2 separate regions of the Homo sapiens genome follow, and region 1 is linked to region 2. Evidence: fine-mapped expression QTL. A gene starts in region 2. The other region holds a variant in brackets. All regions are shown on one strand. Distances are from middle to middle.

Region 1 (5,360 bases), 400 kb before region 2:
CCCTGCCCCGTACGCCCCTTCTAGGGGGCACTTTTACTGTTCCCCATTTCGCAGACAGGACTGGGGTGGGAGCTGAGGGGCTGCAGGTCGGCCCCGCCCTTGACTCCTCCTCCTCCTGGCTCCCTGGCCCGAAGATGGGAGAACCTCGGGCTTGGCCAGTGCCAGCCCTAGAGACGGGCTTCCCCATGGCCACGCCCAGCACCCACGAGGGGACATCTGGGGGCAGGCAACGGGGGAGGAGAGCCTGGCAGAGGAGGTGGGTGCCCCAGGAAGCAGGAGCAGCCCCTCCCCCAGTCACCCCCAGCAGATGCTCCTGGCACCCATTGGACCCCGAGGACCTCAATAAGGGAGCCCAATTTGGAGACAAAGGCCGGCTCTGGGGACAAACACTCATGGCTATCCTCAGCCAGAGCAGCCAGGCAGCCGCGGTGAGGCCACAAAGGGCCCGAAGAAAGGGGCTGCGGGAGGGGCCGTGAATGGGTCGGGGCTGCACATGCCACCGTTGCCCGGGCGACGGCCCTCTCGCAGAGAGGTCTGCCGGGCCATTGTCCGGGGCCCGCAGGACGTGCCACACACCAGATGGTCGTGTGCTGTCTAGGTCACTTATCGGGGGACAGAGTGAAGGAATGCGGCCGGCACGGCGGGCCGAGGCGCCATCTGTTCCCTCAGTCCACGGGCACCGGCGGGCATTGAGCACTCGGCCGGCCAGGCCCAGCCTCCGCCATGGCTTTAATTAGCTAATTCCATAATTGGGCTTTATTTCAGGTAAATTGCATTTCACACCCGAGAGGGCTGCAATGGCCCGTCCAGGAGAGGAGTCCTCGGGCACTTTGTGCGCAGTCCATAATATGGACAACAAGGCGGGCTGGGTGCCGGGGCCGCGCCCGGCCCAGATGGGCGGCCCCACGGAGCTCCCTGTGGGCCAGGGTCCCGGGGTGGGCGGCCGGGGCTGGGGGGCCTGGGCGCTGTGGAGGGCCCTGCTTTCCGGCCGGCATCCCCGGGTTTCCACAAATATTTACCCAACAAGGAAACAACAGTTCCTGCCTTTCAGTAACTGCTGCTCCCGCTCCTCCCGGAGGGGTGCAGGCCAGGGAAGCCTGGGAAGCCCCGTGCTGCCCCTCCACCTCGTCCATCCCGGTCAGTGCTGGCCAGGCCAGATGCCAAGACCCATGGGTTGGGGGCACGGGCCCAGTGGGCTTGGCACCAGGTGGGACCCAGGGCCTTTCCCTCTAACAAGGGCTTCCACCCCTACTCCACACAGAAACCTGGGGCCCCTGTCCCTGCCACCTGCTGCTGGCCGCCTCCTGCCCCCAGTGGACTCAGGACAGCCCCATCCTTGATATCTCAGATGCCCCAAGCCCTCATATCCTGAGACTTCGGGATGGGCTCTGGAAAGAGGACAGAAGGCGGCTGCAGTCCTGAAGGACTGAGAAACGGTCCAATAGCTGAGGTGGGGGCACAGCAGATGCACCTGCCCCGGTTGAGTGTGTCTGTGCCGAGAGTGAGGCACTCTTTCCACCTTAGGAGAGGCGGGCCTCACAGAAAGCTGCAGGAACAGGGTCAGGGCGAGCAGGGTGGTGGCCCCTCTGTCCCACTCAGAGAACTGGACAGGCTAAGGGAGCATCGTGTTACCAATGGGGAAATAGAGGCCCGGAGGAGGCCAGGGGTGAGCATATGGGAGCCTCAGGGGCCCCAGGCCTTCCTTGCACCACAACCCCTCCAGAGTTTAGCCCTTGGCATCCTGGGGAATGGGCCTGGGTGGGGCCTGCTCCCAGAGTGGAGCATGTGGGTCCTTGATGAAGGGCCACCCTGGCCTGGGAGGGGCAGACAGAGAGGCCCAGACAGAGCCCATCTGCCGCAAGGGCATAGAGTCTGCTGGAAGACAGGCAGTGACCACACTGTGACTGCACTTCATGGCCAGGGCCAGCCCAGGGCCCAGAACAGGAGCGACGTCGCTAAGCTAGAGCCTTCGATGGCATCTTGCAGCCCCTCTGAACCCTGACCTACTCCTCAGTACACGGACATAGCGTTCCTATTCCACAGCCACCTGGGCACTGCTTCCAGGGGAACTGCAGGGGTCCTGTCTGTGAGAGACCCCATGGATGCCCCAGGAACCAAGGTGAGAGCAGTGCCCAGCCCAGCCTGTGATTCTCCACGTTTATTAGGAAAAGCTTGCACAATTAATAATCAAAATCACAC[T/C]GTGAAACTCATTAAAACACAGATCCAAATCACCACAAATTATTGATTTCTATGCGATGTAATGCCCAGAAGGAACCCCTGTCCTGTGTAGGAACCGTCACTTCTCTGCGGCTCAGCAGCTGGCAAGGGGAGGTGGCAGTCCCCTTCTGTGTGTTTGGCTGGCTGCTGGGACTGGGCGAGGGGTTGGAGGCGGGAGCCCCACGCACAGTGGGCTCAGGGGCGGAGAGGCAGGGCTCCTCTCCAGCTAGGAAGAGCTGGCAGTCTAACCCAGGGAAGTGGGCGTTCCCCCCACTCAACCACGTGCCCTGGGGAAATGGTGAGACTGTCCCTCCTGCTGGAAGCTGGGGGCTCAGGAGCAGTCTCCACAGTCTCCTGCCCATGGGTCAGCATTTCCTGAGAGTGAGGGAGCCAGGCCCAGGCCCTCCAAATGGGCTCCTGGGCTTTTATTGCCGGCGGCCCTGTAGTCAGCGTGGGCTGGTCCTGCCCTGCCTGTGCCTGGCAGGGTCCTGGATTTGAGGCTGGGGTCCAGGGGTTGCTCTGTCTCCCCTCAGGAAGCCCCCTGGGCCAAGCAGGGTGGGCCTGCACTCAGCCTGTGCTACTTCCTGGCCATACATGGGCCAGGCCCTGTGCCCTGCCACTGGGTCCCAACCACCATGCCAGTGATGTCAACATCACCATGTGGGGGCCAGGGCGCTTGGGGTAACAACTCAGACCTGAGACGGGGCCCCCACACCGGCCAGGAAGAGGTGGCCTTGCTGAGCCCCCAAGTGCAGGCTGTGCCAGACAGCATGGTCCATGGGGTATTGGGGCCTCTGAGAGTGGGGCTCTTCTCTCTGGGCCTTTTAGGAGGTGGCCTCCTTCAGAGAGGGCCAGGTGGGGCCACTCTTGGCCTCCCCTCTCACTCAGGCCCATCCCCCAGCCCCATCCCCTCCTCAGGACCCCTCATCGGGGCCCCTCCTGGGCACGGTCAGCTGCTCGTAGGTGGGCAGGGTGTTGCTGGGCAGGAAGAGCTCAGGGTCGACGGAGCCGCCACTGCCGCAGGGCTGGGTGATGTGGGCCCCGCCCTCTCTGGGGGGGCCGCCGCTGCCGGGGGTGCTGCCACCGTGCAAGGAGAGCAGCTGGTGAAGCATGTCGGTGATGAGTGCCAGCCTCTGGTCCAGCTGCGTCACCTGCGGGGACAAAGGCAGACGAGAGAGTCAGTGGTGGGAAGCACCCAGGTGTGCAGACAGCCTCAGGGCCCAGGTTTGGGGCCAGAGAAGGGAAGGTGCCAACCGTCTCTGCAAGTGCATGCTGTATGCAGGCGGCACGCACGTGTGCACCCTATGTCTGCAAGGCCCTCGGTCGCGCCTGTGTGTGTGCAAGGAATGTGCATGTGTGCCGATTGGAGTCCATCCCGTGCGTGCTGGGAGTCCCTATATGTGTCCACAGGCATTCAGGCTCAGGGCCAGGAGCTCTCCTCTCCTCCTTCTCTGCTCCCCAGGCTGGCCGGCCTTCTGTGCCACATCCCCGCATGGCAGGGTCTGCACCAGGGACCCGGACCTGAAATATTTGGGTTTGCGGCAGCCTTTGGCTTCTTGAGGCCAGGCTTGGGGACATTTGGGTTAAGGGTCAAGAAAGGCTGGGGGCTATGTCTACTGTGTCTGGAGGAGAACTGGACAGAGGGCAGAGTTCAGCAAGGCTGGCTCATGGGCAGGGCCTGGGGTGGTTGAGGAGGCAGAGGGCTTGGGCTTTGCCTGGGTGTGCAGGGGATGCCCCTGCTGGGCCACTTCCAGGAGGGGCTTGCAGGGCACAGGGCTTGTGCCTCTGTGATGCTTTCTGCAAGGGGGTGGGGGTGGGTTTTTTTGTCATCCCCCAGGAACCATTATGCCATGTCTTTAACCTAGCGGGGACACCACTATTTTCCCAGACACCATCTGCACCCACATTCTGTGGTCAGAGCAGTGCCCTAGAGCGTGCCCTCTGGCTAGCCATGTGGCCTCCACCTTCTCAGGGGCTGGTTCTGCAGTGAGCTATGTGCCAGGGTGGCTGCCCTGCAAAGCTGGCAGGGAGGTCAAGGCAGGACAGAACCCGAAATGCACCCAGCACAGAGAGTAGGTGATCAGAGGCCTCGCAGTGCTGCGGAGGCAGCAGAGAAGCCCCAAACGAGTGGACAGCCAGGTGATCTGAGAGCTCCTTGGAAGGACAGCACCGCTGGGGAATGAGGCTGGAGCCCGCCCCGGGTGGGAAGTGGCCATCCAGCCTTGATGGGGAGACTGGAAGGCCCTGGCCGGCAGGCCGGCACCCTGGCACCCTCAGAGCAGGTGCTGGGTGGAGCAGGGCCAACCCCAGGGGCAGACTAGGGCAGGTGAGGGAGTCCAGGTTGGGGACCCCTCTCCCTAGGAGGTTGGACCTGGGGGCCCTAGCATGAGTGAGGGTTCGGGGAGGGCGCACAGCTCTGTTGGTGGCCACAGGAGACAGGGCTGGTCCTTCAGCCTGCGGTGTTCTTGCAGGAGAGCCCCTCAGCGTGCTCTGTGGAGAATGAAGTAGACCCTCCCCCACCGTGGGTACCTGGAGGCCTGGAAAGACCTAGAAGTGGTGGGGGAGGGGCAAACAGATCAGCACGCGATAAGGGCTGAACAGCAGAGCTGCTTCAGGGAAACGTATGGCTCCAGAGAGAGGCACGAAGATGACTCAGCCACAGCAACGTCAACCACTGGCCCTAAGCACAGGCAGCAGGCGGGAGCTGGCCCGGTCCACCTGGCCGTGCACTCCAGGGGTCTGCACCCTAGGCTGCGCCGGGCGGGCCTGGTCCCTCATGCGCCCGGCCCCACTGCTGATCCAGCCGGATAGGCTTGGGGTGAGGTGTGGGCCAGGGCTGGGTTCTGTGCGGGTGAGACAACCCCAGGGAAGATGCTGCTGGGTGACGTGGGCACAAGCCCCGGGATGGCCAGAGAGGGAGCAACCAGTTTGCTAGGGTCTGGGTGGACCCGGGCCAGCTTCAAAGGCTGGGTGCTGTGGTCGTCACCCACAGCACCTACCACGGAGGCTGAGCAGGCTAAGGAAGAGGCGGCCAACAGGGTGCTGTGAGAGGCTGAGATGAGAGGGGGGCGCCTGCCTGAGTGGGGCCGAGCGTCTGTCTAGAGGGCTAGGTGGGCAGCCTCCACCTGGGAGGGTGGGACTGT
Region 2 (5,360 bases):
TTTCTCATTTCACAATCCACCTAAGGACAGGGCCCTGTCTCCGCCACCATTGCCAAGACTTCTTACAGCAACACAAGGCTGGACTGGCGCAAGGCTGGACCTGATTTCGTGAGGCTGCAGGTGGCCTCCAGCTACTCTGCCATCCTGGTTCTATGACCAGGTCTCCCCTCAAGAGACTGGTCCTGCCAACCTCCTAGGGCACTGAGGGTGGGAGCGCATCTCCCAGGCCCCCACCAAGCCACATGTCCTGCCCAGTCAGGGTCCACCTCCAGTCCCACCCCACATGGAGGTACCTGGGTTGGAGGCTGTTCATGACAACTTCCCAGGGCCAGGCACACGTCTTACAAGGACAGGACCCAGAACTGGAAAGGACCAGCCCCAGATCTGGCCACTTCACAGAAGCATCCCTTTCCTGGCCACCCCTTCACAGAAGCCATCCTGCCCCTGTCCCCAGAAGCCACCCCTGCCTTGCCAGCTCTGCGGAGGCTGGGCGAAGGTAGACTCTTGCTGAGCAAACTTCCGAGACCTAAACAATCCAAATGAGGAAGAAAACACAAGTGCAAGCAGAGACTTCCTCTGGGGCGTGGCGAGCCCTCTTCCTCCTCTTCCTCCACACGGGTGGCTGCAGTGAGCCCGGAGGCATGTGTCCACAAACCTGAATACAAGTGAGAATTGAGGGGGTCTGCGGGCACTTTGCCTTGGCCTCTGGCTGAGGAGGTCTTCCCACCCTTGGACATCTCAGAGAGTCTGGGGTCCGGGAGGCAGGTGGCCACCAGCACACAGCACCTGTGAACCTGGCATCTGCTAGACATTTGCACAGTGGCATCGGACTGGGTTCCCCTGGGGTCACTGCACACAAATATCTCCCAAACCCCAAGCCGAGCCCCCGCTGTTGCAGCCACGAGCAGAGCCAGCTCCTCTCACAGACCAGCAGCGGCTGTGGCTCAGGCACCCACTGACATGTCAGGAGACAGGGGCTTGGGAGCTGGGGTGGGGAAAAGTCTCCAAGATCACCCCCCAACCACATCTTTGAGGAGGGAGGTGGGTAAGACTTCCCCTTCCTGATGTGGAAGGCCACCTCTTAGCAAGGAAGGCAGTAGCCCTGCGACCCCTACCCCACCCCCTCACCTGAGACGATGCTTGAAGCCATTTGGGGCCTGGCTCCTGCTGTCACCCGCCCTGAGGCCCTGGTGGCAGCTGCCAGCAGGCATGGACAGGCCTCTGGATGCCCTCCAGCCAGTTCTCTACTGAGCCTGCCCGAGGCAGAGGAGATGCTTCCACCTGAGGACGCTCAGGGAGACCACCCTTCAGCCCTCAGGTGAGCCCCACAGCCATCAGCCATGGGATGTCTGGGTAGAGGCTCCCAGGCCAGAGGCTGGCACCACACCAAAAGGCCGCTGGCTGGGCAGCCAGGAAGTAGGGCCACTGGGGCAGCGGGGGAAGGCCCCAGGCAGGCATGGAGGAGAGCAGCCTGGACCTTCCCGGAGGTGACTTCCCAGGCCTGTCCCTGAGAAATCCAGTGCCCAGCCCTGCTCAGGCACGCTGTACCGGGAATTGGAACCACCTGGTAACAGGGGGGCCAGGTGCCTCTGCTACCAGCGCTGCTTTCTCCGGGAGCACAGCTGCCTCTTAGTGAGAGCTGCAAACGTGCCTCTCCGCTCTCTGCATCAAGCCAGGTTTTCATGAGCTTGGTTCAATTAGTTAATGTGGGGCCCGTGGGGACGGCCCGTGGCATGCTGAGCCCTCAGGGAGCACCGCCACCGTCACCTTCCTATCCTGGACAGCCCCCTGCCCCAGAGTCCACCTGGGCCTCAGGGGGTCTGAGATGCGGCACCGGACATCAGGGGCCTTCTCTCTTGGGGGCTCCTGAGCCTCGAGTCTCAGCCGACCTTGAGGAGTTATCTTACTGCACCCAAGGGTGCGCTCCCCAGCACGCTTCTCTTCCCAGAAGGATTCACACCTGGACTACCCTCCCGGAGGTGTGGAGCCAAATTCTGGGCTCCAGGTGGTCCCCTCCCCAGCCGGCTCCCTCCCCACGCCGGGCCTGCGAGAAGATGCGCACCCCCAGACACAGCAGCGCCTCTGAACTTCAAGGGAGAGTGCAGAGTTTGTGTTTCTGCGTTTCCCCACTTCCTTCCCTCCTCTGCTCCGGGGTCGCAGCTCCGACGGGGCAGGTGGCGCTGGGACAGAGCTCCCCCACACCAGCTCTCAGGAAGCACCTTCGTGCCGGCCGTCGCCGGTGGCGATACTCACACGGCGAAGTGGTAAACGAAGCATTTCCAGCCGGTGGGACGCTCGAGGAAGTTGTAGACGCGGCCCTGGACGTGGGTGCGCGCCAACACCGGGCGGCGCGTGCTGTAGATGGAGACGCGCGGGTCTAGGCTCACCGGCGGCCGCGGGCCAAGGTCGGAGGCAACTGGGGGCGCGGCGGGCGCGGCCGGGGACGCAGGGGGCGCGGGACCTGGGGCGCCGGGCGCGATGGGCGCGTAGAGCGCGCCGCCCGCCGGGCCGCCCTCCGCCAGCTCCAGCGAGAAGGGGCACTTCTTGGCCAGGCCCGCGCTGCCCCGCCGGGCGCCTGGCAGGCGGCCCCAACCCCAGCGCTTCCTCTCGGCCCTGGGCGGGGAGGAGGCCGCGGCCATAACGAGGAGGGCCTGCCGGGGGGCCGGCCCGAGCGGCGGCACCGGGAGCTGCAGCGAAGGCGAGCGCCCGGGCGCAGTGCGGGCAGCCACTGCTGCCAGCCCCGCCGCGGGGGGCCGCTGCCGGCCCAGCCCGGGCGCTCGGGGCGGGGCCGGAGGGGGCAGTGGCCGAGGGCCGGTCCCATGGGACGGCGTGCCCCGCCCCCGCCTGCACGCCCCGCCCCCGCCGGTCCGGCGCGCACAGGGCGTCCCTGCCCGCGCCCACCGGCTTGGCCCGCCCTCTCCCCACGGACCGGCCTGGCCCTGCCTCCGCCTCACCCCCTGGCTTGGCCTGTCCGCGCCCCCGCCCCCGCCTGCGCCCCCGCCCCCACCCCCACCCCCGCCCGAGCCCACCTGCTTAGCCCCGCTCGTGTCATCTATCCCGCTTGGCCCCGCCCCCTCCTCGCCCACCTGTTTGGCCCCGTTCCAGTGTGCATTTACCCCGCCTGGCCCCGCCCCCTCCCCGCCCACCTGCTTGGCCCCGCCCTCACCCACCTGCTTGGCCCCGCCCCGTCTGCATCTCCCCTGCTTGCTCCTGCCCTGCCCTCACCCACCTGCTTGGCCCCCACTTCTGATGCCCGCCTGCTCTGCCTGGCCCGGAGGAGGACCCCAGCTGCGCCAGGGAGGAAGGGGTAAGGCCTGGCCGATACCACGACCGAGAACGGCACAGCGGGGGCAGGAGGGGCGGGGTAGGGTGCCGGCATCTACTTTCCCTCCCTCTGAGCCACTCCGGAGTTGGGGTTGGGGGGAGGAAAGGGATGTCCTGGGTGAGGGTGTGCTGGCCCCGCGATCACTGTGAGCGCCCCCGGGTGCCCAGGCGCGCGAGCTGCGGGCGGCGAATACGCTCGGGTCGCTTCCCACCAGGGCCCTTGGACCGGGAGGGTGAGATGGGACCACCACTGTCAGGTACCTCCCAGTGGGAGCTGTGTGGGTGGGGAGCCGGCAGGGCTGCTGGGGGGTGGGGGCGGCACAGCCGGGGTCTGGACCTGGTTTGACTGCCGGGCATAGCAGGCGGGGCTGCCTGGGCAGTTAAAGGGAGAGGCGCTTGCGCCACCCTAGTAACTTGGAGAATGGGCGCCTTGTCCTCCCCACCGTCGAGACCGCGCTGCCGCTGCGCCCCGTGGATTCCCCTGGGTGGGGGTGGGTTGGTCACATCGGAAGATTTTCACAGGTCTCTGCACTGCCTCCCGCCCGCTACTGGCATTTGGGTCTCAGCACGTCTCAGGCTTGGGGGGGGGGTGGGGGGCAGCCAACAGAAGAGACCGGCTTTTTTCAGGATACTGCACACAGCCCTGAGGCAGGGACTAAAGGTGGAGCTCAGCGGTGACTCTCCGCCCCGCCAGGAGACCCATAACTCATGTGACACTTCCAGGTCGTCCCTGAGCACCCTGGGTCAATTTGATGTATCTACCACCCCCTGCCAAAAGTCTGCTCTTTTATCGTGGACGGAGTCCAGCCCAGGCCCTTGACGCCTGACTCCCCACCCTAGTGAGGTGCCACACAGGAGTGCACAGTCTGTATTTGCAGCAAGAGTGGATGGAGTGGGTCCCAGCTTGTGCTGGGCGCTGTGATAACACAAGGGAGGCCGAGGAGAGGGTACCTTCCTGGGAAGCATATCAGTGAAGGTGCAGAAGGGCAGCGGGTCAGAAGATGGGGGCAGTCAGTCAGCTCTGCAGGGCACACAGCACGCATTCAGCAGTTACTTTCCGGGTGAACATACATACACCTGCATGGAGTCTCTGCCTTCCCCTCCCACCTCAGCAGGAGGAAGGTGAGCTTTGAATAAGCAGCGTTTGGACAACTGGACAGTCATAAAGAAAGAAAAAGCATACCTTGGGTCCATCTCACCGCACACGAGAATAAATCTCAAATGAATCAGAGGCTCAAGTGTAAAGGGTGAGATGAAGCCATGCAAATTCTACAAGAATGTACAGGTCAATTCCTCAAGAACCTGTGAATCGGGAAAACATTTCCAACTATGACTTGAAATCCAAAAGCAACAGATAAAATAAGAAAAATTAAAATAGAAGCACCATTAGCAAAGTAAAGGAGACAAATGACCAAATGGGAAAAGTATTTGCAGTTTCGATCACAAAGGATTAATATCACTGATACATAAAGAACATCAAAACTGAGGTGAGGAACCTGCCAGACAGTCCTATAGAAAAGGGAGCAGAAGACATGAGCAGTTCATAGGAAATGGGGTTCATGACCTTTGCACTTATGAAAAAATGTTCAACCTCATTTATAACAAGAAAAATGCAAATGAAAAGTACACTCTGATACCACTGCTTGCTTATCAGATTGGCAAAAATCCAGACTTTTGATGGCAACTCTGTGGGAGAGGCAGCAGGCACAGGTGCACTCCTCATCACTGGTAGAAAAGAGACCTAGCGATATTACTAAATGTATCATTTGACACAGAAACCCCACTTCTAGGAAATAACCCAAAGATATGTAGGAAAAATAGAAAAGTACATATACATAATGATAGTCAAAACAGCATTTTTTATATTAGCAAAAGTCTAGAGACAATCACAATGTCCTTCAATCGCTTCAGCTGTGCTGTGGTACAGTCACACGATGGAGTGCCATGATCAATATGATCACTAATACTCAACCAAAGGATCCCAAAGAACTCTGTGTGTGTGTGTGTGTGTGTGTGTGTGTGTGTGTGTGTGTGTG

Evidence for each region.
Region 1: its variant is fine-mapped to the expression of KCNQ1 in whole blood (TOPMed, PIP 0.97).

What each region holds. Positions count from the first base shown.
Region 1 is chr11:2,845,775-2,851,134 of GRCh38, reverse strand. It overlaps KCNQ1 (potassium voltage-gated channel subfamily Q member 1), which reads right to left. Exons shown (of 16, transcript NM_000218.3): 16 at 2,030-3,368. The coding sequence ends at 3,132. All of the region lies in intron 2 of KCNQ1-AS1 (KCNQ1 antisense RNA 1), which reads left to right. Among named protein-coding and RNA genes, the nearest start is that of KCNQ1-AS1, 13 kb to the left of the region's middle. The variant T/C (reference allele first, on the strand shown) is at 2,200.
Region 2 is chr11:2,442,378-2,447,737 of GRCh38, reverse strand. KCNQ1 (potassium voltage-gated channel subfamily Q member 1) reads right to left here and starts at 2,730. Exons shown (of 16, transcript NM_000218.3): 1 at 2,254-2,730. The coding sequence starts at 2,639. It overlaps TRPM5 (transient receptor potential cation channel subfamily M member 5), which reads left to right and starts at 3,224. Exons shown (of 29, transcript NM_014555.4): 1 at 3,224-3,307. RefSeq lists silencers at 2,741-2,810, 2,821-2,930.